5 separate regions of the Homo sapiens genome follow, and all the other regions are linked to region 1. The links come from fine-mapping of genetic effects on gene expression. A gene starts in region 1. Each other region holds a variant in brackets. All regions are shown on one strand. Distances are between the middles of the regions.

Region 1 (5,170 bases):
TCTTATTAACTTTATTTATTTATTTGTTTATTTATGTTTTTGAGACAGAGTCTCACTCTTGTCGCTCAGCCTAGAGTGCAGTGGCACAATCTGGGCTCACTGCAACTTCTGGCTCCTGGGTTCAAGCGATTCTCCTGCCTCAGCCTCCTGAGTAGCTGGGATTACAGGCGTGCGCCACCACACCCAGCTATTTTTTTTGTATTTTTAGTAGAGATGGGGTCTCACCATGTTGGCCAAGGATGGTCTCGATCTCCTGACCTCGTGTCCCACCTGCCTCGGCCTCCCAAAGTGCTGGGATTACAGGCGTGAGCCACCACGCCCGGCCTCATTTTTTTATTTTTAGTAAAGACAAGATTTCACCATGTTGGCCAAGCTGGTCTCCAACTCCTGACCTGAGGTGATCCGCCTCCCTCGGCCTCACAAAGTGCTGGGATTACAGGTGTGAGCCACTGTGCTGGGCCGAATGGATTGGATTTTAAAGCATACTTCAGGCAGATGGAATAAGGGAATAGTCTGAGTAACGGTGATGAGAAAAGAAAGAATTGGCCAGGTGCGGTGGCTCACACCCATGATCTCAGCACTTTGGGAGGCTGAGGAGGGCAGATCCCCTCAGGTCAGGAGTTGAAGACCAGCTTGGCCAACATGGTGAAATCTCATCTTTACTAAAAATACAAAAATTAGTCAGGTGTGGTGGCGGGCACTTGTAATCCCAGCTACTCGGGGGGCAGAAGTTGCAGTGAGCCAAGATTGTGCCACTGCACTCCAGCCTGGGTGACAGACTCTGTCTCAAAATAAAATAAAATAAATAAATAAATAAAAAAGAAATAATTGTATTTGATGACTTGGTGAGTCAGCTAGCATAAGACATGTGTACCAGGGAGTAGTATAAAACTACAAGGTTGTTTAGCTTGGAGTTAGAGCAACTTGTCAATTTTATTCCCGAGGCAATGGGAGGTGTTTAAAGTTTTTTTGCGATGCTGTCTGAACTATACTTTAGGAAGCCTATGGTGGCAGGATGAATTGAAGGCACAGGAAAAGGTTTCAATATTCAATAGTCCAGGGAAAAGAAACGGAGGACCTGCAACTAGGTGTTGGCACTAAGGGATGGAGCTTTGCCTAGATTTTCCCTTTGTAGATTCTTCTCTTCCTGGATGGAAAATGATAAAAGGAAATTCTTCTGATAGTAAATTATAATGTTGACTCCAAAATCAATTCTAGATAAAGGCGATTAAATTGCAAACCCAGGATGCCTGTCTGAATGGTCCCTGCATTCAAAGATATTTTCCCCTTTACAGGAGCACCGGATAAATTTAACTCCCTAATCTGTCAAGGGCTTTGTGGAAGAGCCTGGAGGGGGATCGAAGGCGGAACTGATACTGACACACCTGGGTCTGCAAACTCCCAAAACTGAGGCTCAGAATTAGTAAATTAGGGCAGGGCACTTCCCTCTTTGGAAGGGAAGTTCCTATTTTCAAAGTTCTTCCAACGGAACTTTTACATTAGAGAAGTGTAATTGACTGAGAAGTGGAAGTGACCAGGAACAGCATTTCTGTTCCCTGGGCGGGAGAGAGAACCCCCTCGGGCGGAGCCAGCAGCAGGTCAGCTTCTGAGGGGGCCCTCATGCTGGCGGCGCCGACCTGTGGTGCAATGCTCTGAGTAGGAGAATCTTAAATACATGTTTGAGATTCAATTCCCAGAAACGTAACTAGTCTTCACAAGCCAAAAAAATAAAAATAAAAAATAAAAAAAGGAAGTGATTTCTTTTCAAGAGGTCAAAGGGCCTGGAAGAAGAGGTCCTGGCTTGAGTGTCTCAAGGCTTTCTGGGGCCTAATCCGGCTGGAATGGGCCGCAGCATTCATATTCCTGTCCTTGGTCGTGTCTTAATGAAGAATTGAAAATAATAAGGGGTGGAGAAATAACTTTCCTTTTTCTCCCACCATCCTCCCACAGTGTAAATAAACAAATAACTCTAAGCTCGATTTCCTCATTTGTCAGGGGTGGGGAAAGACTTGACATCAGGACTCTTCCATTCCATCGCCACCTGTCTTAATTTAAACATTCCCATGACCCACCCCAGAAGCGCCAACCTCCCGCCCACAAGGAGCATGGAAGTCTTGGTTTCTGGCTACTGCGCAGACTCCACCTTGGACCTACTCCCCAACCCCCCGCCGCTCCTTTCCCCGTTTCTCCAGCAGAGGGCGCAGGCCCAAAGGTTCCGCCGACCCCGCCCCAGCCTGGCCCCGCCCCGCCCCGGCGTAGGGGCGGGGAAGACGGGCACAGAAACCTGGCCGCGGCTTTCCGGGAGCTGTGGGCACGCGAGCTGCTCGAAGCCGGTGGCCCGGGGATCGTCGCTGCCCAGTCCGGCCGCGGCCGGCCGCTTCCCCGAGCTTACCAGTAAGCCGGTCCGCCTCCGGGACGCGCCCCGCCCGCCCCGGGCTCGCGCGCTCTGAAGGGGCGCGTCCCGCGCACTCCCGGCGCCGCCCACTCCCCTCCCCACGGCCGCTCCTCCCTCCGCCCGGATAGCCGGCGGCGGCGGCGGCGGCGGCGGCGGCGGCGGCCGGGAGAGGCCCCTCCTTCACGCCCTGCTTCTCTCCCTCGCTCGCAGTCGAGCCGAGCCGGCGGACCCGCCTGGGCTCCGACCCTGCCCAGGCCATGGCCGGCAACGTGAAGAAGAGCTCTGGGGCCGGGGGCGGCAGCGGCTCCGGGGGCTCGGGTTCGGGTGGCCTGATTGGGCTCATGAAGGACGCCTTCCAGCCGCACCACCACCACCACCACCACCTCAGCCCCCACCCGCCGGGGACGGTGGACAAGAAGATGGTGGAGAAGTGCTGGAAGCTCATGGACAAGGTGAAAGGCCGGCTGAGCGCCCGCTGTTGCAGGGTGGGCGTGGGCGGAGGGCCGCGGGGAGGGGAACGAGCGGACGGAGGAAGCGGGGGAGGGGACGGGTCTGGTGAAGCCGGGGAGGCGCGGAGCCGGGGTGACCGGCCGGGGGCGTGGGGGCAGGGACGAGGCCGGGAGGGTGGGGGGCGGCGTGGGGGAGGGGCTGCCGTTGGGAGTCGGGGAACGCTGGGGTGCCGCGTTTGGGGTAGCCAGACAAAGATGGAGTGGGGGCTGGGGCGAAGGTTAACTGGGAAGTCAGTGGGGCGGAAGTACAATGAGGGGTGCGGAGTTTGGGGCTCTGTGCAGGGTGTAGGGATGTAGGTCACGGAATTGGCCTGGGAGGTTAGCAGGGAGGGGGTGAGGAAGAGTGATGTACCGGCTGGGGCTCTTGGCTGGGTGAGATCTGACTAGGGAATTAGGTTCATGGGCTCTGACTGAGGAACCTGGCTGGGGTCAGGACAGCTCTCAGGGAAGCTGTGCTCTGGGTGAGAGTATAGTCCTTTCTCATTAAGATGTAACACGAAGATAAAAGACATATTGATGTTTAAGTGAGGCAAGGAAAGAACTTTCCTCCCCATCTAGCGCCGGCTCAAGTTTTTTGTTACCCTCAGAAACACTGGATGTGATCCATTGCTGGTGCTGAGATATGCACTGATTAAACCACAAGTTCTGGTTAGAACTATTATCTTCTGAAAGATGGACTGGCTGAGCCTGTTAAGCAGCAGCAGATTCTGACTTCTTAATAACTTCCTCCCTACTACATCGCTTGAGCTGGGTTCTTTTTTTCTGGTAACGGTTCTGACTCCTTATTACAGGTCCTGACTTTAAACTTGTTCGTTGAGCTTCTTTGATTACGCTTTTTTGTTTGTTTGCTTTTTGCAAGTGCGAACAAAAATAACTCCTTTATATTTAGCCACTAAGTTTGTCATTTGGGAGAATTTTACTTCCTTATAGTTGTGTCTATATGATGAAATGTAGTCAGTCTCAAGTATTTAACTGTTTAAGCAGTCGGACGCTTTGTCAGAATTCAATACGTTTTCTTGGTATTTTTCATATTCTTTAATTAATTACTTTGACAAAATTCATATTGCGTATGAAAAGTGATTAGAAGTATCTGGCACGTTTTAAGAGAATGGTGTTATTTCCTCCAGGGTAAAATTTGGTTTTCTTTGGTTCCTCCCTGGGCCTCGGTTCCTCTTCTGTAAAGTTCTTCATGGGTTGCTTTGGACTAGAAACCGCTAATAAAATGATTATGAAGCACTTAGCCAATGTAATGTGCAATTTAAATGCTTAATAAGTCCTGTGTGTGAATTAACACTCCAGTAGTGCATGCCAGTGGTTTCATAGCCACCTTTTTAGGGCTGGCTTTTCTCATGTTAAATAATTGGTATTGTAATTAATGACACAAGTATTCGTGTGTTGATTATATTGGTGGTGTAGTACTAATTTTATTGTTAGAAATTATAATAAAATCCTTACAGAAAGTTTAGGTGTGTAAAGGAAACTTTAAATGTGTCGACTCCTTTAAAAAAAACACATCGAAGATATTCAAATGCTAAAGTTTGTTAGTTTGCTTTTTAGGGATTTATCGTTAAGGACTACAAATTTTACTCTGGCATAGAAAAAATACTTTTCTAATGAGTGTCTCGTATCAGACATGTGGGTGCAGTACAATCAAAATTGTGTTGATTAGTGGCCTCTGCTTAAGAATAATCTGTTTACTAAAGAGTTTCTGTATTCTGTATTCTTTTTTTTTTTTTGAGACGGAGTTTTTCGCTCTTGTTACCCAGGCTGGAGTGCATGGTGCGATCTCGACTCACTGCAACCTCCGCCTCCTGGGTTCAAGACATTCTCGTGCCTCAGCCTCCCGAGTAGCTGGGATTACAGGTGCGCGCCACCACGCCCAGCTAATTTTTTGTATTTTTAGTAGAGACGGGGTTTCATCATGTTGACCAGGCTCGTCTCGAACTCCTGACCTCAGGTGATCCATGCGCCACGGCCTCCCAAAGTGCTGGGATTACAGGTGTGAGCCACTGGGCCTGGCCCTGTATTCTTAAAGAATAAGAGTATTCTGTATTCTTATTAAAGTGTTTCTATAAATACAGAGTAAGTTGTAGATAGTCCTATTCTACAAGGTAGCCCAAATAAAATCCTCCCTTAAGTCTTACTCCTTCATCTATTTAAAGTATGTGTATTGAATTTTGATTTATTCTGCAGAATGTTTAATTATTTGGGAAGAATAAAGAGGACTCAAAGTTTAGACTCAAATTGCTTTTCAGGTTTGATAGTT
Region 2 (5,170 bases), 48 kb before region 1:
GCTTATGAAACTGAACAGTGCTCTTGGCTTCTGGGTATCCCTCCAAGTGCCTGAACCGTAAAGGATACAGATGCGGCCAGAGTGCCCTCTTCCTGCCAGCTTCATCCCCTTCACAGCAGCTGCCCCGCCCCAGACACTCCCTTCTTTTGGCCTCACCCACCTCACGTGGCCCCCTGGTGGCCTCTCTCTGGACAGTGGTCTGGATAGCGCCTCTTGTTTCCAAGTGGTGTCCCTCATGAAGTCCCTGGCACAGGGGGGCCGTACCATCATCTGCACCATCCACCAGCCCAGTGCCAAGCTCTTTGAGATGTTTGACAAGGTGAGTGTCTCCAGGCCTCAAGGAGGATTGGCCTGAGATGGAGGGATGGAAGGGGGTCAGTAGGGGTGCCTGGCCCGCTGTTCCTTCCTTACCCTTCTCTTTCTGCTGCAGCTCTACATCCTGAGCCAGGGTCAGTGCATCTTCAAAGGCGTGGTCACCAACCTGATCCCCTATCTAAAGGGACTCGGCTTGCATTGCCCCACCTACCACAACCCGGCTGACTTCAGTGAGTGGGGGTCTGTTGGTAGGGGCTGGGAAACAGCAGTGGGCCGAACCTGGGGTCTCTGGTCTTGCACTCAGGCCTCCTAGGGGTAGAGATCTCACCGTCGCCTGCCTTCCCCACACACCCAAGGCGGGACTGACTTGCCCTTGGGAAGTGAGTGTGAATCTAAACTGAGCTCTCCACTCTGTGTCCCCAGTCATCGAGGTGGCCTCTGGCGAGTATGGAGACCTGAACCCCATGTTGTTCAGGGCTGTGCAGAATGGGCTGTGCGCTATGGCTGAGAAGAAGAGCAGCCCTGAGAAGAACGAGGTCCCTGCCCCATGCCCTCCTTGTCCTCCGGTGAGTAGGGGTGGAGAGGGCAGAGCAGGCATAGTTGGGGAGGGGAGACTGGACCATGGACAGTGGCCCTGCCAAAGAGGCTGTTCCCCAGAGGCATTGCAACCAATGGGTGCTAGGAAGAACCTAGGACTTGGAATCGACCTACTAGGAACAGCACTGTGACCTTAGGCACATTATTTAACCTCCTTGAGCTCCAGTTTCCTCATTGACTTATTCATTCAGCAAGTTCTTGTTGAGCAGCTACAGTGTGCTGTCCTCGGTCCTGGCATAGTGCCCATCTGGTAAGCAAGATCAACATGGTCCCCAGCTTAGTGGCCAGTGTGGCTTACTGTTCTCTCTAACTTAGAGATGATGATACTCACCTCACAGGGTGATTGGGAGGACTAATTAGATAATCACATAAAGCTCTTAGCACTGTAGCTGGTACAGCAGGCGTCTGCCCAGTGCTAGTTCTCTTCCTTAAATGAGACACTGTAACCCCTGAAAACCAGATTGATTAGTTTTTGTTGTTATTGTTGTCATTATCATCATTATTAAATAACATTACTGTAAAATTGGTGGCATAAAGGAATTATACCTGGCCGGATACAGTGGCCCACGCCTGTAATCCCAGCACTTTGGGAGGCCGAGGCGGGTGGGTCAGGAGATGGAGACCATCCTGGCTAACACGGTGAAACCCCATCTCTACTAAAAATACAAAAATTAGCCGGGCGTGGTGGCGGGCGCCTGTAGTCCCAGCTACTCGGGAGGCTGAGGCAGGAGAATGGCGTGAACCAGGGAGGCGGAGCTTGCAGTGAGCTGAGATTGCGCCACTGCACTCCAGACTGGGCGACAGAGCGAGACTCCGTCTCAAAAACAAAACAAAACAAAACAAAAAAAACCCAAAACAAAACAAAAAAGGAATTATACCCTTAGAGTTCATGTGTTTTGATGGATTAAAAAAGTAACCGATCTATTATTAGCCACCACGGGTGTCCATTACTTTCTTTCCATCTCCTCCCTCCCAAGTTTTTGCCCCCTTTTTGTGTCTGAATCTTGCTCTGATTCATACCCCTAAGCCTAGCTTTCAGGTACACAACTTAATGGTACAAGATTCTCTGTAGACCTGGAGGACCCCTACCCTGGGGAAGAGCTCTGAGGTTTTTCATTCACTGAGCTGGGTGTTCTGTGGGTGAATGGGGTAGGCTCACCTGATCCCGATCCAATTTCTTCTTCCCAGGAAGTGGATCCCATTGAAAGCCACACCTTTGCCACCAGCACCCTCACACAGTTCTGCATCCTCTTCAAGAGGACCTTCCTGTCCATCCTCAGGGACACGGTGAGGCGTCAGGCTGGGGGAGAGGAGGCTGGCACAGGCCTGACCTTTTGGGCTGTAGGATCCCAGCAGCTGAAATGGGAATGGGGACCCTCCCTCACAGCCCTGCAATGTGCCTGTGGGGTCTCTGTGCCTGTGAGGGCAGCTCCGAGTTCCTACTCCAAGTCTACTCTGTGGCTTGCCCTGGCCTGTAACACATCCCTCTCCTGGTGATGACCCCTCCCAAGGTCCTGACCCACCTACGGTTCATGTCCCACGTGGTTATTGGCGTGCTCATCGGCCTCCTCTACCTGCATATTGGCGACGATGCCAGCAAGGTCTTCAACAACACCGGCTGCCTCTTCTTCTCCATGCTGTTCCTCATGTTCGCCGCCCTCATGCCAACTGTGCTCACCTGTGAGCTGAGCTGCCCTGGGCATGGGGCAAGGGTGTGGGTGCTGGGGCTTGGGGCAGGGGCCAGGGTGTCGGCCGGGTGTGCCTAAGCAGCCTGTGTCCTCAGTCCCCTTAGAGATGGCGGTCTTCATGAGGGAGCACCTCAACTACTGGTACAGCCTCAAAGCGTATTACCTGGCCAAGACCATGGCTGACGTGCCCTTTCAGGTGGGCCTCTTCCTCCCACCTGCCCACTGCCTCCATCTTGTCTTGCTCCTTCTATCCTTGCTTTCTTGCCTCCCTCAAACTTGTCACTTTCCTTCCTTTGCTGTCCTTCTACTCACTTAGCAAATAGATGGTGAGTACCTGTCATAGCCCAGGCTCTGTACCAGGCCCTAGGGATATAGCATTGAACTAGACTGATGTAGTCTTGACCA[T/C]GTGGAACTTATGTTTTAGTGAGGACAACTGACAACAAACAGAAAATGATGAAAATAACCCTATAGGGCCAGGCGCAGTGGCTTGCGCCTGTAATCCCAGCACTTTGGGAAGCCGAGGCTGGAGGATCACTTGAGCTCAGGAGTTTGACACCAGCCTGGGCAACATGGCGAAATCCCATCTCTACTAAAAATACAAAAATTAACCAGGCTTGGTGTTGTGCACCTGTAGTCCCAGCTACTGGGGGCAATAACCCTACAAATGACTCTGTAACTCTTATTAGGGGCAGTAGAAAATGGTGTACTCTCTGGCTCTTACTGCCACTTGCTACCTGCAAGATCTTGGGCAAATCACTCTCTTTGCTAAAGTGTACCCATCTATAAAATGGAATGACAATAGTATCTACCTCAGGATTGTTAGAATTGAATGAGTTAATGTATATAAAGTACTTAGAATAGTGCTTGGCACATACGAAGTGCCCAGCAAATGTTAGCTGGTTGTTGTTACCGCCAATACCACCCTGTTCCAAGCATCAGGGCCACCAGTAATCCATAGGGCACATCTGTGCAAGTTAGAAAAAGGTGCCCCTTCCTCAGGGTGGACACCGTCACAGGATGCTTGGCTTAATAAGAAGAGCACAAGCTGGACCTTTGGCCTGGTTGGCTCTTGGTTGGATGCCCTTGAGCAGTGGATGACTGTACTTAGTAAGCTCAGACCCTGCCCCCTAGGAGTTGGTAGCTCATGGGGGAACAAAATGGCTCTCCTATGGAGAGTTAATTACTTAACAATATAACGAATAAGCTGGTCCAGGTGGGAAGGACTTTAGGCGCTCAGGGAAGGGAAGAGTCACCGTGCCTGAAGCAGTCAGGGTGGACCAAACGGAAGACGTGAGACGAGATAAGTGATGGTCATATGGCCAGGGAGGAAGGGGACGTGTGTCAATCTGGGGGACAGCTTGAACAAGAATGTGGAGGCAGGATGGACACCCTGGGAATAGGTATTCTAGAGGCCCAGCCTTGGGTGGAGTGGAGGTCTTGGCTGCTGTGCCCCTGGCTTGAAGTCCACTGTCCAGCCCGTGCCCACTCCCCAGGTGGTGTGTCCGGTGGTCTACTGCAGCATTGTGTACTGGATGACGGGCCAGCCCGCTGAGACCAGCCGCTTCCTGCTCTTCTCAGCCCTGGCCACCGCCACCGCCTTGGTGGCCCAATCTTTGGGGCTGCTGATCGGAGCTGCTTCCAACTCCCTACAGGTGGGAGGGCTGGCAGTTGGGAATTCCCAAGGCGGGATGAGGTCTTGTGGGAGGAAGCAGGGCCTGGTGCAAGGGTTAGGGTGGAGCTCTAGGAAACCTGGGTTTGTCCTGGTCACCCCTATGATGGCCTGGCCCCCTCCCTTCCCCTCTAGGTGGCCACTTTTGTGGGCCCAGTTACCGCCATCCCTGTCCTCTTGTTCTCCGGCTTCTTTGTCAGCTTCAAGACCATCCCCACTTACCTGCAATGGAGCTCCTATCTCTCCTATGTCAGGTCAGTACCCCTGCCCTCCTCGTTGGCCTCTGCTCCTCCCTGGAGGAGTCCATACCCAGGGCTTCCTGGGTTGTGCCAAGTCTGCTGCCTGCCCCATTATCCTTTGGGCAGGGGCACCCTGGCTGCACCCCAGGGATGACAGCATTGCAGCTGGGCTCTGGCAGTTTTCTCAGAGAGCAGGGACCCTGTGTGCTGTATCCCATCTGATATCCCTGCCTGCCTAGGTATGGCTTTGAGGGTGTGATCCTGACGATCTATGGCATGGAGCGAGGAGACCTGACATGTTTAGAGGAACGCTGCCCGTTCCGGGAGCCACAGAGCATCCTCCGAGCGCTGGATGTGGAGGATGCCAAGCTCTACATGGACTTCCTGGTCTTGGGCATCTTCTTCCTAGCCCTGCGGCTGCTGGCCTACCTTGTGCTGCGTTACCGGGTCAAGTCAGAGAGATAGAGGCTTGCCCCAGCCTGTACCCCAGCCCCTGCAGCAGGAAGCCCCCAGTCCCAGCCCTTTGGGACTGTTTTAACCTTATAGACTTGGGCACTGGTTCCTGGCGGGGCTATCCTCTCCTCCCTTGGCTCCTCCACAGGCTGGCTGTCGGACTGCGCTCCCAGCCTGGGCTCTGGGAGTGGGGGCTCCAGCCCTCCCCA
Region 3 (5,170 bases), 27 kb before region 1:
TAATAACAAAATTAAATTAAATTAAAAAATAAAAAATTTTTAATTTTGTAGAGATGGGGTCTCACTAGTGATCCTCTCACTTTGGCCTCCCAAAGTGCTGGGCTACAGGTGTGAACCACTGTGCCCAGCCAACTTTTTATTTTTATAGGCACCAAAGCATAAGGGCTAAGAACAGGGATTTGGTAACTCAGCTATTTGAGTTCAAATCCAGGCTCTGCTACTTATTAGCTGTGAGACTTTGGACAGGTTACTTAGTTCTGTGCCTCAGATTCCTTATCTGTGAAATGGAGATAATACTAGAACTTATATCACTGGCCTAATATGAAGATGAAATGAACTCATCCTCAGGGTCTAGGACATGGTAAGTGCTATTTAATTGTTTTTTGTTTGTTTGTTTTTTTGAGATGGAGTCTCGCTCTGTCGCCCAGGCTGGAGTGCAGTGGCACCGTCTCTGCTCACTGCAACCTCCACCTCCCGGATTTAAGTGATTCTCCCAGCTCAGCCTCCCAAGTAGCTGGGACTACAGGCACCTGCCACCATGCCCGGCTTATTTTTGTATTTTTAGTAGAGACAGGGTTTCTCCATGTTGGCCAGACTGGTCTTGAACTCCTGACCTCAGGTGATCCACCCACCTCAGCCTCCCACAGTGCTGGGATTACAGGAGTGAGCCACCACGCCCGGCCTATGCTGTTTAATTGTTTGTCACACATAGAAACAGACTTAGTTCCAGACCAGCCTGGCCAACATGGTGAAACCCCATCTCTACTAAAAATACAAAAATTAGCCGGGTGTGGTGGCACGTGTCTGTAATCCCAGCTACTCGGGAGGCTGAGGCAGGAGAATCTCTTGAGCCCAGGAAGTGGAGGTTGCAGTGAGCTGAGATCGCGCCACTGTACTCCAGCCTGGGTGACAGAGCGAGACTCTGTCTCACAAAAAAAAAAAAAGAAAAAAGAAAGAAACAAAGAAACAGGCTCGGGCAGCCCACCCCTTCTCACACATCACCTCCGACAGGAGGTCACAGCTGCTGCTGAGGCCACCCCGCCTTGAGGATGTGCCTGCCGGACCTGAGTTGCAACGAGAGGCTGCAGTCTCCCGAGGGGATTCAGAAAGCCCCCAGTTATTGAAAACCCAGCAGAATTGTCAGCCCTGCACCCCCAAGCCCTCTTGGAGGGAGGGTTGCCCTGGCAGAGCACTGAGCCCATCTGTTTATTCACCATCCTGTGGATTCAGCTTCACAGGGTGACATATTCTGTCACAGGTTGGTGTTGGAGAAGGGGCACTATCACCTCTATGAGAGTAACCTCACATATAAACATGAAAACAAGCCAGGTGCAGTGGGGCACACTTGTAGTCACAGCTGTCAGGAGGCCAAGGCAGGAGGATCGCTTGAGCCTAAGAGTTAAAGGCTACAGTGAGCTATGATCACACCACTGCACTCCAGCCTAGGTGACACAGCAAGACTCTGTCTCTAAACAAATAAAAATTAAAACATTAAAAAGTAAAAAAAACCCAGATGTTAAAGGACGTGCCACAAAACAACGTCATGGTTTGTTGCCAGAGGAATGACCCTTCTTCCCTTTCAGAACCATTGCAGGAATGGGGGAAGATATCACAAACCCCCAACATTTATTTCTTTGTCAGATATTTGAGTGCCTGCTGTGTGCCAGGCAATGTGTTAGAATCTGAGGAAATGTCAGTTAACAAAACTACAGGTTTCAGCCCTTTCTGATCTAGTCTGAGCTCCTCTCCCAGAAGGAAACTGCTACTTCCTGCACAGTTTGAGCACAAAAATATCAATGTAACCATATAAGGAAAAATTACAGCAAATGCCTGGGAAGAAGGAGCCCCAGATGCCATGAAAGTGTATAGTGGGGGAACTGGTCTGCGGGGTCAGGAGAGCCTCTTTGTGGAAGGGCATGTCGTCTGACCCTTGTAGCATTAGCCAAAGGAAGAAGTTGGGGGAGGGGAAATGCCCCAGGAAAGGGCAGCACCCTGGAGGCTTTTTTTTTTTTTTTTTCTCTTGAGACAGGGTCTTGCTCTGTTGCCCAGGCTGGAGTTCAGTGGTGTGATCTCAGCTCACTGCATCCCTGACCTCCAGTGCTCAAGGGACTACAGGCACATGCCACCATGCCTGGCTAATTTATTTTTAATTAAGAAAATTTTTTTAATAGAGATGGCATCTTGCTACATTGCCCAGGCTGGTCTAGAACTCCTGGGCTCAAGTGATCCTCCCACCTCGGCCTCCCTAAGTGCTGGGATTACGGGCATGAGCCACTGCACCTGGCCTATGGAGGCTTTGAAGGAGGAAAAACCTTGGCACTGTTAAGATGAAAAAAGCCGAAAGGGCAGGAGCATAGCGAGTGGGGCCAAGAGGCTTGTGATGAAGGCATCGTAGTCGGCAGGGCCCAGATCACACAGGCCCTTAAAGCAGTAGGAACTGCATGTTGAAGATGGTGATGTATTTGTGATACCTAGCCCGGTCCCAAACTAAGTGTGTAATACATGCTAATTCCTTCTCACCACCTCCTGGGTTTGAAAATGTATCAGGGTGTTTGGGAAAGAGAAAGAAGTTCCTAATGTCTGCAGCACATGAGACAGGTGTTGAGAGATGACCCTGGAAAGGTCAAATTAGGGCCAAATTATGAAAAGTTTTGGGCCAGGTGCAGTGGCTTATGCCTATAATCCTAGCACTTTGGGGGGCCTAAGCTAGGGAGCCCAGAAGTTCAAGACCAGCTTAGGTGACACAGCAAGACCCCATCTCTAGTTTTAAGAAACGTTTCATATTCCAGGCTAAATGTTTGGAGTTTGCCACATAGGCAGTAGGGAGCCATGGAAGGTGTCGCAGCAGGGGAGTAGCATGATCAGACAAATTATGCTAAGTTCAAGGGGAGATCACAGGGCTGGAGCAGTCATGGGAGTGTACCTTAAGCTGAACCTTGAAGGCTGAACAGGCACATGGAAGGCCACAGTGACTCTCCCCTGCTTCTTTTTCAGGTGGTTCCACGAGTGTTTGGGCGCATGGTGGGTAAAAGCCGGGAGGCGGTGGCTCAGGCCATGGTGCTGGAGATGTTTCGAGAGGAGGACTACTACAACGATGATGTTCTGGACCAGATGGG[C/T]GCCAGTATCCTGGGCGTGGAGGGCCCCCGGCGCCACCCAGATGAGCCCCCTGAGGATGAAGTCTTCGAGCTCTTCCCCATGTTCATGGGGGGGCTTCTCTCTGCCCACAACCGAGCTGTGCTAGCTCAGCTTGGCTGCCCCATCAAGAACCTGGATGCCCTGGAGAATGCCCAGGCCATCAAGAAGAAGCTGGGCAAGCTGGGCCGGCAGGTGCTGCCCCCATCAGAGCTCCTTGACCACCTCTTCTTCCACTATGAGTTCCAGAACCAGCGCTTCTCCGCTGAGGTGCTCAGCTCCCTGCGTCAGCTCAACCTGGCAGGTGTGCGCATGACACCAGTCAAGTGCACAGTGGTGGCAGCTGTGCTGGGCAGCGGAAGGCATGCCCTGGATGAGGTGAACTTGGCCTCCTGCCAGCTAGATCCTGCTGGGCTGCGCACACTCCTGCCTGTCTTCCTGCGTGCCCGGAAGCTGGGGTGAGGACCTATCCTCATGCACAGGCATGAAGAGGGAAGAGGGTTGGAGGTGAAGAAGTGGGAAAAGAAAGTGCCAGGGAAACCAGAGGTACCGATGAGTGACCAGAAGGTGGGATGAAGAAGTCTAGTTTAGGGGCCGGGAGCAGTGGCTCACACCTGTAATCCCAGCACTTTGGGAGCCCAAGGCGGGCGTATCACCTGAGGTCAGGAGTTCGAGACCAGCCTCAACATGGAGAAACCCTGTCTCTACTAAAAATACAAAATTAGCCAGGCATGGTGGTGCATGCCTGTAATCCCAGCTACTTGGGAGGCTGAGGCAGGAGAATTGCTTGAACCTGGGAGGCGGAGGTTGCGGTGAGCTGAGATCATGCCATCGCACTCCAGCCTGGGCAACAACAGCAAAACTCCGTCTCAAAAAAAAAAAAAAAAGTCTAGTTTGGGTGGAGGTGACAGGAGCAACAGAAGGGAGGAGCCAGGCATGGTGGCTCCTGCCTGTAATCCCACTGCTTTGGGAGGCCAAGGCAGAAGCATCACTTGAGCCTAATAGTCTGAGACCATCCTGGGCAACATAGCAAGACCCTGTCTCTACAAAAAATTAAAAAATTAGTCAGGTGTGGTGGCATGTAGCTATCATCCCAGCTACTCGGGAGGCTGAGGTGGGAGGATTGCTTGAGCCCAGGAGTCTGAGGCTGCAGTGAGTTGTGATCATGCCATTGTGCTCCAACCTGGGCAACAGAGTGAGACCCTGTCTCTCAAAAAAGGGGAAGCAGGTATAGATTCCCAGAGGCAGGCTGATGAAAAAAAGGCATGGTAGATGGACAGACTGCCTGCTGAATTCCCTCCCTGGTCTCTCACCTCCCCTCTGGCCACCTTCTGCTCCAGCTTGCAACTCAACAGCCTGGGCCCTGAGGCCTGCAAGGACCTCCGAGACCTGTTGCTGCATGACCAGTGCCAAATTACCACACTGCGGTGAGTGACCTGGGAGTGGGGCATCCTGGTGGCCAGCTAAGGTCAAGGGTGAGCTCCCTGCTTCCTGACATACTTGGCACAGACCCACCCAAGGGATAGTAAATGGAGGAGAGTCTAGGCCCTGACCTGTCCCCTCCACTTCCCCCAGGTCCACTGCAAGCAGCAGGGCAGCAGGGAAACATGCCACCTGTAATGGGTGCTAAGAAACCTCTCACGTGGCTAAAATCAGCCTGGGGGAGGTGGGGAGAGAGGGTGGAATAATACCTAGGCCGGTTGCCTGGTAACAGTGCCACTGATCCCCTCCCAGGATTTTTCTTGCAGCCTCCCGAGGAGGACCCTAATGCTGGGCACTCAGTAGACACCCCTTAAGTGTTGACTGATATGTGGGGAACCTGAGCTCCTGGGTTCCCAGTTTCTGATTGGTGTAAGGGGAGGCAAATGAGGAGAGAAAAAGGAAGAGCAGGGAGAAGGATAGGGGAGTCAGAGGGGAGGGAGAAGCAGAGGCTGTGGAGGGGGTGAAAAAGGCAGAAAAAGGGAAACGGAAATGGTGAAAAGGAAGGGAATAGATAAGAAGGGAGTCAGGGGAAGAGGGAAGGAAAGGCCAGCTCCCC
Region 4 (5,000 bases), 69 kb after region 1:
TTAGGCCCAAGTTTCTCTTTAAAGGCCTTCATTTTTGGCCAGGCACAGTGGCTCACTCCTGTAGTCCCAGCACTTTAGGTGGCCAAGGCAGGAGGATTTCTTGAGGCCAGAAGTTTGAGACTACTACCCTGGATGACATTACAAGACCTGGTCTTTATTTGTAAATTATTTTTTATTTTTCTTTTCTTGTTTTGCAGCAAGGTTTCACTCTGTTGCCCAGGCTGTAGTGCAGTGGCACGATCTCACTTGCAACCTCTGCCTCCAAAGTTCAAGTGATTTTCCCCCCTCAGCCTCCAGAGTAGCTGGAACTAATTAGTCTGGCTAATTTTGTTTGTTTGTTTGTTTTTGTAGAGACAAAGTTTCACCATATTGCCCAGTCTGGGCTCAAGCAGTCTGCCCACTTTGGCCTCTCAAAGTGCTGGGCCTCCCAAAGGCATGCACCATGGCTCCTGGTCCCCTTCTTTCTTTTCTTAAAGAAGTTGACCTGTATTTTGAATTACGAGAATTGAAATTGGTATTGAGAGCTTAATGTGGCTCTCCTTCCTTTCCTTGATTATGGCGATGCCTGGAATTATCTCTGTTATTTCACTTTATGCCTCCTCTCCACCCCCTCCCCAGGACAATAGTCCCTTGGAAGAGCTTTCGACAGGCTCTACATGAAGTGCATCCCATCAGTTCTGGGCTGGAGGCCATGGCTCTGAAATCCACTATTGATCTGACCTGCAATGATTATATTTCGGTTTTTGAATTTGACATCTTTACCCGACTCTTTCAGGTAGGACACTAAAAAAGTTGACTAAACTGGTTACTGCTACTTCGGTGAAGAGAAAGCTTTTTTTTTTTTTTTTTAAATAACATTTGGGGTTTTTGTCTGTATGAAAGTATTTTAATTCATTTTAGGAACTATGCCAAAAAAAAGATTAAAACTATCTCATATTAAAAATATATGTATGTGTGTGTATGTATATATAGTGAAAATGACAGCTATACCAACTGCTTTCTTCTCCTCACATCTTTCCTTGTTATTGAATATTCTTCTTTTGTATCATTTTAATGTTTGTAGAATGGCCAGAATATGAATATATTAGTTTTCTGATATTGGATATTTGTGTATGTTTGCAACTGTTTCTCCTGTTTTATTGAAATTGACTGTTAATATTGAGATGTTTAGATGCTTCAAAAACAACTCCTTTCTTTTTCTCTAAAAATAATGCTTTCTCTGGTGTTGTCTGTGCCAATTTGCATACACATTTATTTGGAACTTATTAGTTGCACCTATAGGCCCTATCCTGGTTTTCAGTTTGTTGTTGTTCAACCCCACTACTGTTAATTAGAGCTGCTTTACAAATTCTAGAATTTTCATTTTGTGTCAAGTTTCTCCCTATAAGCATATATTCTTTTCTTCGTAGCTTTTCAGAGTTTTTAATCTCCTGAACACATGTGTCTTCTCTCTGAGTGATGGTATAATTAAAAATTTCTGACAATGAACTGAGAGTTGGTGTTGTTTTTTTTTTTTCTCATTGCCCTCTGAGTTGGTTGTACATCTGACCTGAATAGTCTGTGATTGATCTTGTTTCTTTAGCCCTGGTCCTCTTTGCTCAGGAATTGGAACAGCCTTGCTGTAACTCATCCTGGCTACATGGCTTTTTTGACGTATGACGAAGTGAAAGCTCGGCTCCAGAAATTCATTCACAAACCTGGCAGGTCAGTTCAATGACGCAAAGAGATTTATTCTTCTGAATTTCGTTATCTTGAGACTTCTGCTAGTATAGAAGAAACATGACCTTAATTAGTTTCGCAATAGCCAAGGTTCTGCAATAGGATTGATACCTGTTTATCAGACGTATTGACTTAATTCAGATCCTATAATTTGATAAATGTTTTCAGGCCACTTAAGAATTGAATTTATGGCCGGGCACAGTGGCTCACGCCTGTCATCCCAGCACTTTGGGAGGCCGAGGCGGGCAGATCACGAGGTCAGGAGTTTGAGACCAGCCTGGCCAAAGTGGTAAAACCCTGTCTCTACTAAAAATACAAAAATTATCCAGGTGTGGTGCGGGTGCCTGTAATCCCAGCTACTCAGGAGGCTGAGGCAGGAGAATCACTTGAACCTGGGAGGTGGAGGTTGCAGTGAGCCGAGATCATGTCATTGCACTCTAGCCTGGGCAA[T/C]AAGAGCGAAACCCCATCTCAAAAACAACAAAAACAAAAAAAGAATAGAGTTTATGTGTCTTTTGCTTCTGGTGTGGAGTCATGGAAGAAGTTACTCTCTTTTTAAAAATATTTTCTTTCTTTTTTCTTGTCACTGACTTGAAGCTCAGAAGTAGTTATTCTTGGCTGGGTGTGGTGGCTCACACCTGTAATCCCAGCACTTTGGGAGGCCAAGGTGGGCAGATACTTGAGATCAGAAGTTTAAGACTGGCCTGGCCAACATGGCGAAACCCCATCTCTACTAAAAATACAAAAATTAGCCAGGTGTGGTGGCACATACTGTAGTCCCAGCTACTCAGGAGGCTGAGGCAGGAGAATCATTTGAACCCAGGAGGTGGAGGCTGCAGTGAGCTGAGATTGTGCCACTGCACTCTAGCCTGGGTGACAGAGCCAGACTCCATCTTAAAAAAAGAAAGAAAGAAAGGAAGAAAGTTATTGTTATTCTTGATGGTTCTTTTGATTTTTGTCTGTATCTTGCCTTGCCTTCCACCGTAATACCAGCATAATCTACTAAAGCTTCTGTTTATGTCTGTTCATAGTTATATCTTCCGGCTGAGCTGTACTCGTCTGGGTCAGTGGGCTATTGGGTATGTTACTGCTGATGGGAACATTCTCCAGACAATCCCTCACAATAAACCTCTCTTCCAAGCACTGATTGATGGCTTCAGGGAAGGCTTGTGAGTACCTACTGCATACCATCTGTTAGAGTCTGGGAACTTAGGGGCTGTCCAACCTCATCATTAATGACTTTATTCCAGGTTTCTTAAACTGCAGACTAAGATTCAGGAAAATATTAACAGATGATATTGATTTGACCTTCAGGTCCTGGAAGACTTTTGTTTTTCTTTTTTAGGGATTCCATGAGTGAAATTATTCTCTACCACTTCAGTTATTACCATAAATAAACTTTATCTTTCTTTTTTCCAAATGTTAACTTATTTTCAAGCCTGTGTTAGGTTTTAAAATATACCAATTAGCAGGAAATTTGACCAGTTATTTAACTAGTCGGCATTCAAGTGATTCAATGTTCCTAATAGCCATAGGCCTCAGTGGCCTTCATCTGCTTTCATCCTCACTTCGCTTTTGTTCAGCAGCATTTCTTCAGGCCTTGGGCTACTGTAACCTATGCTGCTATTTATAACTAAGTCCTTATTTATTCCAGAATTGCTATTCCTTTGAGAATTCAAATTAATTATCAGTTGGTAAACACTTAAAAATACTAACAGTTGACCAGATGGCAGAAAACTAGCTTGTGTTTTGAAGTGATTAGGAAAATACATTTTATATTATACATTATCTTTTACTTACAATAGCATTGGGACTGAAAGGAGTGCTGCCCCAAATGTCAGAACAGTTTGATGCTAGAAACTGTGGATCTCCCTGGTAGATGATCTCAGTAGCTTAATTTGCATATTGTTACATTGCTTTTAAATTGGTGTCTCTCATTTTCTTAAACCTGTAAACCTTCTTTGATCAAAAGCAAATGCAGTTTAAACTAAGAAGTTAAGCCGGGTGCAGTGGTTCACACCTGTGATCCCAGCACTTTGGGAGGCCGAGACGGGTGGATCACCTGAGGTCAGGAGTTCAAGACCAGCCTGGCCAACATGGCAAAACCCTGTCTGTACTAAAAGTACAAAAAGTTAGCCGGACGTGGTGGTGGGTGCCTGTAATCCCAGCTACTTGGGAGGCTGAGGCAGGAGAATCACTTGAATCCAGGAGGCGGAGGTTTCAGTGAGCCAAGATCACTCACTGCAACCTCAAAAAAAAAATAAGAATCTGTCGCGCACACACACACACACACACACACACACACATAAAGAATTTCTATCTGGTGGCCATCCATTGATTAAAAATGGGTTGGTAAACTGTGACCCATGGGCCACCTGTTTGTTCCCCCGGGGAGCCAAGATAGCTTTTCCTAAGAGTCGTTTTGAAAAAAACAATCAGAGAAGAATATGTGACACAGACTAATGTGGCCTACAAATCCTAAATGATTTTCTATCTGGCCCTTTACAGAAAAGCTTGCTAACCAACCCCTTGATTAAAAGATAGAGCCTATGGCATTGTTACCTGGAGAAGGAATAATAGTTTTTGGAGAATATCTTTAAACTGTTCTGTGTTTTTTATTTTTTTGAAGTATTATTTTTTGGAAGTATTTTTTTTTTGAAGTAAGATTGATCTTTATACTTACACCACGTTGCCCTTTTAGAATGGAGAAACTCCCAGATTCCATTTGTCTATATTAGCAAGCACTGGCAAATTGGCTTAAATAAAACCCAGGGTTGGTTACTCTTTACAGCTATTTGTTTCCTGATGGACGAAATCAGAATCCTGATCTGACTGGCTTATGTGAACCAACTCCCCAAGACCATATCAAAGTGACCCAGGTGAGTTTTGTTTCACATGATAACCATATCACTGGACACAAGCTTTAGTATATTCTTTATAGAACTGACAGCATAATTGAATTCATTGGAACCCATTGACTAGATTAGTGAATTTGTGTGTATGTGGTTTCACTTTAAACCCTGGAGCTTAAAATAGGACCCAGACTAGATGCTTTCTGGTTTAATAAAAAATAAACCACTGTTGTGACATTTTTATATAAGCAAAATTTGTATAGGAAACAAGTCTTCACTTTTTCTGTTAACATTTATAATTGCAGTTATTTATTCAACTAATAGTCTTTTAATTTTTTTTAATCAAAGGAACAATATGAATTATACTGTGAGATGGGCTCCACATTCCAACTATGTAAAATATGTGCTGAAAATGATAAGGATGTAAAGATT
Region 5 (5,000 bases), 88 kb after region 1:
TGATAATGCTTATTTTCCTAGCTGCCTACAAAACGTTTTCCCCTGCTCTGGGTCCCAGCAGTTTTACTGTATCTTCCTTTGTGGTTTTGTTTATATTTATCTTTTAATCCTTCATAAGTTTTCATACTTTTTTTTTCGAGACAGAGTCTCACTCTGTCACCCAGGCTGGAATGCAATGCTGTGATCTCAGCTCATTGCAACCTTTGCCTCCCAGGTTCAAGCAGTTCTCCCACCTCAGCCAAGTAGCTGGGATTTTAGGCATGTGCCACCATGCCTGGCTAATTTTTGTATTTTTAGTAGAGATGGGGTTTCACCATTTTGGCCAGGCTGGTCTCGAACTGCTAATGTCAAATGATCCACCTGCCTCAGCCTCTCAAAGTGCTAGGATTACAGGCATGAGCCACTGCACCCTGGCCTCCTTTTCTTTTTCAGACACTAACTAGAACCAAACCTCCGTAAGTTTGGTAAAGTTTATTTAGTTTGTGATATGTTTAATCAGTTTTAGGACATTGTCAGCCACTTTTCCTGAAAACAGACTGAATATTGCAGTCCCTCTTTGTCCTCCTCTTCTGGGACTACCTTTTCCGGAATGTTAGACCTTTTCACTATGTCTCCGAGAGCTCTTATGCTGATGTCTTTTTTTTTTTTTCCATTATTTTTTTCTTGGCATACTTTATTTTCTTTTTTTCTTTTCTTTTTTTGAGGTGGAGTCTTGCTCTGTCACCCAGGCTGGAGTGCAGTGGCGCAGTCTTGGCTCACTGCAAGCTCCGCCTCCCGGGTTCATGCCATTCTCCTGCCTCAGCCTCCCGAGTAGCTGGGACTACAGGCGCCCGCCACCAAGCCCAGCTAATTTTTTGTATTTTTTTAGTAGAGACGGGGTTTCACCACGTTAGCCAGGGTGGTCTCAATCTCCTGACCGTGATCTGCCCGCCTTGGCCTCCCAAAGTGCTGGGATTACAGGCGTGAGCCACTGCGCCCGGCCTATTTTCTTTGATTTTTAAATTTATTCAGCCTCCCTAGTAACTGAGACTATAGATGTGTGCCACCACACCTAGCTAATTTTTGTATTTTGTGTAGATACGGGGTTTTGCTGTGTTGCCCAGTTTTATTTTTCGATACAGTTGCTCCTCAACTTAAGATGGGGTTATGTCCCAGTAAACCCATTGTAAATTGAAAGTGCATTTTGACTTACAGTATTTTCGACTGGGTTTTTCCAAATATTACTCCATTGTAAGTAGAGAAGTGTATTTGATGTTTATTACTTTTGCACCATTGTAAAGTTGAAAAATTGTAAGTTGGGGATGTCTGTGTTGTATTTTTAAGTTCTAGTATTTCCATGTGATTTTTAAAAATGTATCGATTCCATCCTTTTTTTTTTCTTTTTTGAGACAGAGTCTCACTCTGTCGCCCAGGTTGGAGTGCAGTGGTGCAGTCTCGGCTCTCTGCAACCTCTGTCTCCCAGGTTCAAGCGATTCTCCTGCCTCAGCCTCCTGAGTAGCTAGGATTACAAGCATGTGCCACCACCACGTCTGGCTAATTTTTGTATATTTAGTAGAGACAGGGTTTCACCGTGTTGGCCAGGCTGGTCTTGAACTCCTGACCTCAAGTGATCCACCCACCTTTGCCTCCCAAAGGGCTGGGATTACAGACGTGAGCCATCGTGCCCATCCCATCTTCTTTTTTTTATTGAACACATAAATTATTATTTTAATGGCCATACGTAACTCCAACTCTGTCCAGCTTGGCAAGACAGCCAAAATATCTATTTAGCTTTTCAATTGCTGCTTTCTGCTTGTTTTCTCAAAATCTAGCCCCAAGCGTAAACAGTTTAGGGATTTGTAATAGCTCTAGGGAAAATTGCTGGCATTTCAGGTATACTTCTCTGCTGTTCCCTCCTCTGTATTTTTTGGTCCCTTATACCTTGGCTGTCATTATACCCCAAAATTCCTGTCTCTTCTTAGTCTGTTTTCTGTTGTCATAACAGAATACCTGAGATTAAGTAATCTATAAAGAAAAGAAGTTTATTTAGCCCACGCTTTTGGAAGCTGGAATGTTGAAAAGCATGGCGCTGGCATGGTGAGGGCCTTCCTGCTGCCTTGTAACCAGGCATCAGCATATGAAGGTGGTAACTAAGTTTCCAACATGTGAAACTGGGGGACATATTTAAATCGTAGCATTCTCACCAGCCCATTGAGACTACTTTAAACGCCTAGTTCAAAACCCCTAATACAGGGCTTACTCTAATGTATTCTTTCTTGAATCTTAGCCTGTTAAGTCGTGGCTGCCTGGTTGCTCTCCAGTGTCTTCTTTCTTTTAAAGCATATATTGCCAACATGCTTTGTGAGAAGGAGGTTCAATTATGTATTTTATGGACTTTATTAACAGAGAATTATAATTAAAATTTTTAAAAGTTAGGCACGGTGGCTCACGCCTGTAATCCCAGCACTTTGGGAGGCCAAGGTGGGTGGACCACTTGAGGTCCGGATATCGAGACCAGCCTGGGCAACATGGTGAAACCCTGTGTCTACTAAAAACACAAAAATTAGCTGGGTGTGGTGGCGGGTGCCTGTACTCCCAGCTACTTGGGAGGCTGGGGCAGGAGAAATGCTTGAATCTGGGAAGTGGAGGTTGCAGTGAGCCAAGATCACGCCATTGCACTCCAGCCTGGACGACTGAGTCTC[C/T]GTCTCCAAAAAAAAAAAAAATTATTGCCTTTTTAATGGCCCTTTTTACAAAAATAATACATGTTAACTAAAATTTAGAAAATATAGGTAAGCAGGCTGGGTGCGGTGGCTCACGCCTGTAATCCCAGCACTTTGGGAGGCCAGGGCTGGCAGATCATGAGGTCAAGATCGAGACCATCCTGGCCAATATGGTGAAACCCCGTCTCTACTAAAAATACAAAAATTAGCTGGGTGTGGTGGCATGTGCTTGTGGTCCCAGCTGCTCGGTAGGCTGAGGCAGGAGAATCGCTTGAACCTGGAAGGCAGAGGTTGCAGTGAGCCTAGATCACGCCGCTGCACTCCAGCCTGGTGCCACAGTGAGACTCCGTCTCAAAAAGGAAAAAAAAAAAAGGAAAAGGAAATATAGGTAAGCAACACTGAAGAAATAAATGTTACCTGTAATCCTATCAGACAATAGTTAGCAATTTGATACATGTTCATTGCCATTCTTCCTTGTATGAAATCATATTGTCATTGCTGGTTTTCACTAAAAATATCTTGAACATCTTTGCATGTTATTACATATTCTGTTGCAATGATTTTCAAATTATTTCACGATTATACATCAGTGTAACTAAAGTGGAATCTCAGTTTGTAAAATAGATAAGAACAGATCTATTGTAGTAGAAGCAGCAGTAGGCTTCCGTGGCTCCGGCTTGGAACCTCTAAGGCACTTGGGGACACAGTTGTGTGGTTCAGTATTTATTCAGTACATTATTATTTGGTATTGAAGTTATTGCCTAATTTTCCAGCATTATAAATAATGCTGCAGTGAATGTTCTTGATGGTTTCCTTAGGGAAAATTCTCAGAAATGGAATTTCTGAGACCAAGAGTATGCATGTTTGGTAAATACTTTTGTTGAATTACACAACAGAAACGTATCAATTCCTTATTTCTACAGCTCTGTAACAAAGTACCCATTCATTTCCCTACACCTTCACTGACACCGTGTGGCCAAATACCACATTAAGAACAAACTAGGGATGGGTGGGGTGACTCAGGCCTGTAATCCTAGCATTTTGGGAGGCTGGGGCGGGAGGATCACTTGAACCCAAGAGTTTAAGACCAGCCTGGGCAACATAGTGAGACTCTGTCTCTACAAAAAAAAAAATTTTTTTTAATTAGCCTGGTATTGTGGCACATGTCTAGTCCCACCTACTGAGGAGGCTGAGTTGGGAGGATCACTTGAGCCCGGGAGATCAAGGCTGCAGTGGGTTGTCATCATGCCACTGTGCTCCAGCGAAAAATCTAGGTGTTTCTTTCTGAATATGGACTGTCCTCCCGCCATCTCATTTTATTGTGAAAAGTTACAAAGATAGTAAAGGTGAAAGAATTTTACAGTGAACACCCATATACTGATCACCTGGATTCTACTTTTAGCATTTTATTATACTTGTTTTATCAGACTATATGTCTGTCTTTTGATGTTTTCAAAGTAAATTGTAGATACCAATACACTTCTGCCTCAGAACTTCAGCATGCATTGCACAAATCTTAAGTGGATATTTCCCATTAACGGCAAAAAACACAATTACTTTTGCACCAACCTAATAAAAGTAATATGTAGATATAAGAAAAAACCTCAAGTGAGATTAAAGGGGACTTCTATGTTCTGTGTTAAGTTTCTATAGCACTTATGTGTGTATTATAAATGTGTTGCTTTTATAATTAGGAAAACTAAGCATCAAGCAGACAAACGAAAGAGATGCTCCTTGTAGCATCTTTAGGATATGCAAAAATAATAGGAAGGGAGGAGAAACACAAATTCACACTCCAAGAAGTAGGTTTTTGTGTGTCTTTTTTTCCCCCCTACAATTTAGTGGGGTGTTTTTGTATTTCTTGGGAGTTTTTTCATTTCATTTCATGCGGTGGCAGAAGTCTTGTTTCCAAAGTTTCTGGGTGAAAGTTACATGTGGATATAACAGCCAGATCCTTGATGTGGGAGTCAGTAGATCTGGGATCTAGCCTCAGAATTTACGCTAACTGCGGTCGCTTTATCTCTCTCTATTTTAAATTTTTCTTATATAAAACAAGGAGTTTGAGAAAGCTTTTGACAAGCTATGCATTCCTTGAAACCATAGGTAGAGTTTAGAATTGGAATTTAGTTTACAGTTCTAACATTGTCAGAAAAAATCTTGCCGTTTCTCTAACTCTAGGGCCTGGGACTCTATAATGAAACTTCTGTGGGGGATTAGGACTAACCAGTATCTCAGGTGATTAGCCCAGTATATCACCTCTGAAGCATAAAAGCTGCACCTTTGGTCAGTTGAAAGTGACAT

Direction of the effects. Positions count from the first base shown, and alleles are read on the strand shown. Sizes are in standard deviations (SD) of each study's normalised expression. Not every link is listed here.
For the expression in sigmoid colon of the gene that starts at base 2,574 in region 1, allele T in region 4 goes with a higher level than allele C (moderate effect, 0.48 SD a copy in GTEx).
As copies of T replace C in region 5, the expression in thyroid of the gene that starts at base 2,574 in region 1 goes down (small effect, 0.25 SD a copy in GTEx).

The links. PIP is the estimated chance that this variant, and not a neighbour inherited with it, causes the effect. A credible set is the group of variants that fine-mapping cannot tell apart.
Region 2: its variant is the best candidate, but not a certain one, in a credible set for the expression of CBL in whole blood (INTERVAL, PIP 0.76).
Region 3: its variant is the best candidate, but not a certain one, in a credible set for the expression of CBL in whole blood (TOPMed, PIP 0.71).
Region 4: its variant is the best candidate, but not a certain one, in a credible set for the expression of CBL in sigmoid colon (GTEx, PIP 0.55).
Region 5: its variant is the best candidate, but not a certain one, in a credible set for the expression of CBL in thyroid (GTEx, PIP 0.77).

Annotation. Positions count from the first base shown.
Region 1 is chr11:119,203,766-119,208,935 of GRCh38, forward strand. CBL (Cbl proto-oncogene) reads left to right here and starts at 2,574. Exons shown (of 16, transcript NM_005188.4): 1 at 2,574-2,847. The coding sequence starts at 2,653. RefSeq lists silencers at 2,082-2,151, 2,192-2,581, 2,652-2,841, 3,032-3,091.
Region 2 is chr11:119,156,134-119,161,303 of GRCh38, forward strand. It overlaps ABCG4 (ATP binding cassette subfamily G member 4), which reads left to right. Exons shown (of 15, transcript NM_022169.5): 7 at 196-319; 8 at 431-545; 9 at 739-881; 10 at 2,101-2,199; 11 at 2,424-2,592; 12 at 2,696-2,796; 13 at 4,094-4,252; 14 at 4,405-4,523; 15 at 4,748-5,170. The coding sequence ends at 4,973. Among named protein-coding and RNA genes, the nearest start is that of ABCG4, 9.7 kb to the left of the region's middle. RefSeq lists enhancers at 514-1,014, 2,438-2,937. The variant T/C (reference allele first, on the strand shown) is at 3,006.
Region 3 is chr11:119,176,699-119,181,868 of GRCh38, forward strand. It overlaps NLRX1 (NLR family member X1), which reads left to right. Exons shown (of 10, transcript NM_001282144.2): 7 at 2,995-3,590; 8 at 4,473-4,559. Among named protein-coding and RNA genes, the nearest start is that of NHERF4, 6.2 kb to the right of the region's middle. The variant C/T (reference allele first, on the strand shown) is at 3,117.
Region 4 is chr11:119,273,250-119,278,249 of GRCh38, forward strand. CBL (Cbl proto-oncogene) reads left to right here. Exons shown (of 16, transcript NM_005188.4): 4 at 619-775; 5 at 1,583-1,704; 6 at 2,748-2,885; 7 at 4,508-4,595; 8 at 4,917-5,000. Among named protein-coding and RNA genes, the nearest start is that of MIR6756, 37 kb to the right of the region's middle. The variant T/C (reference allele first, on the strand shown) is at 2,170.
Region 5 is chr11:119,291,738-119,296,737 of GRCh38, forward strand. The region is part of intron 12 of CBL (Cbl proto-oncogene); the gene reads left to right. Among named protein-coding and RNA genes, the nearest start is that of MIR6756, 19 kb to the right of the region's middle. The variant C/T (reference allele first, on the strand shown) is at 2,682.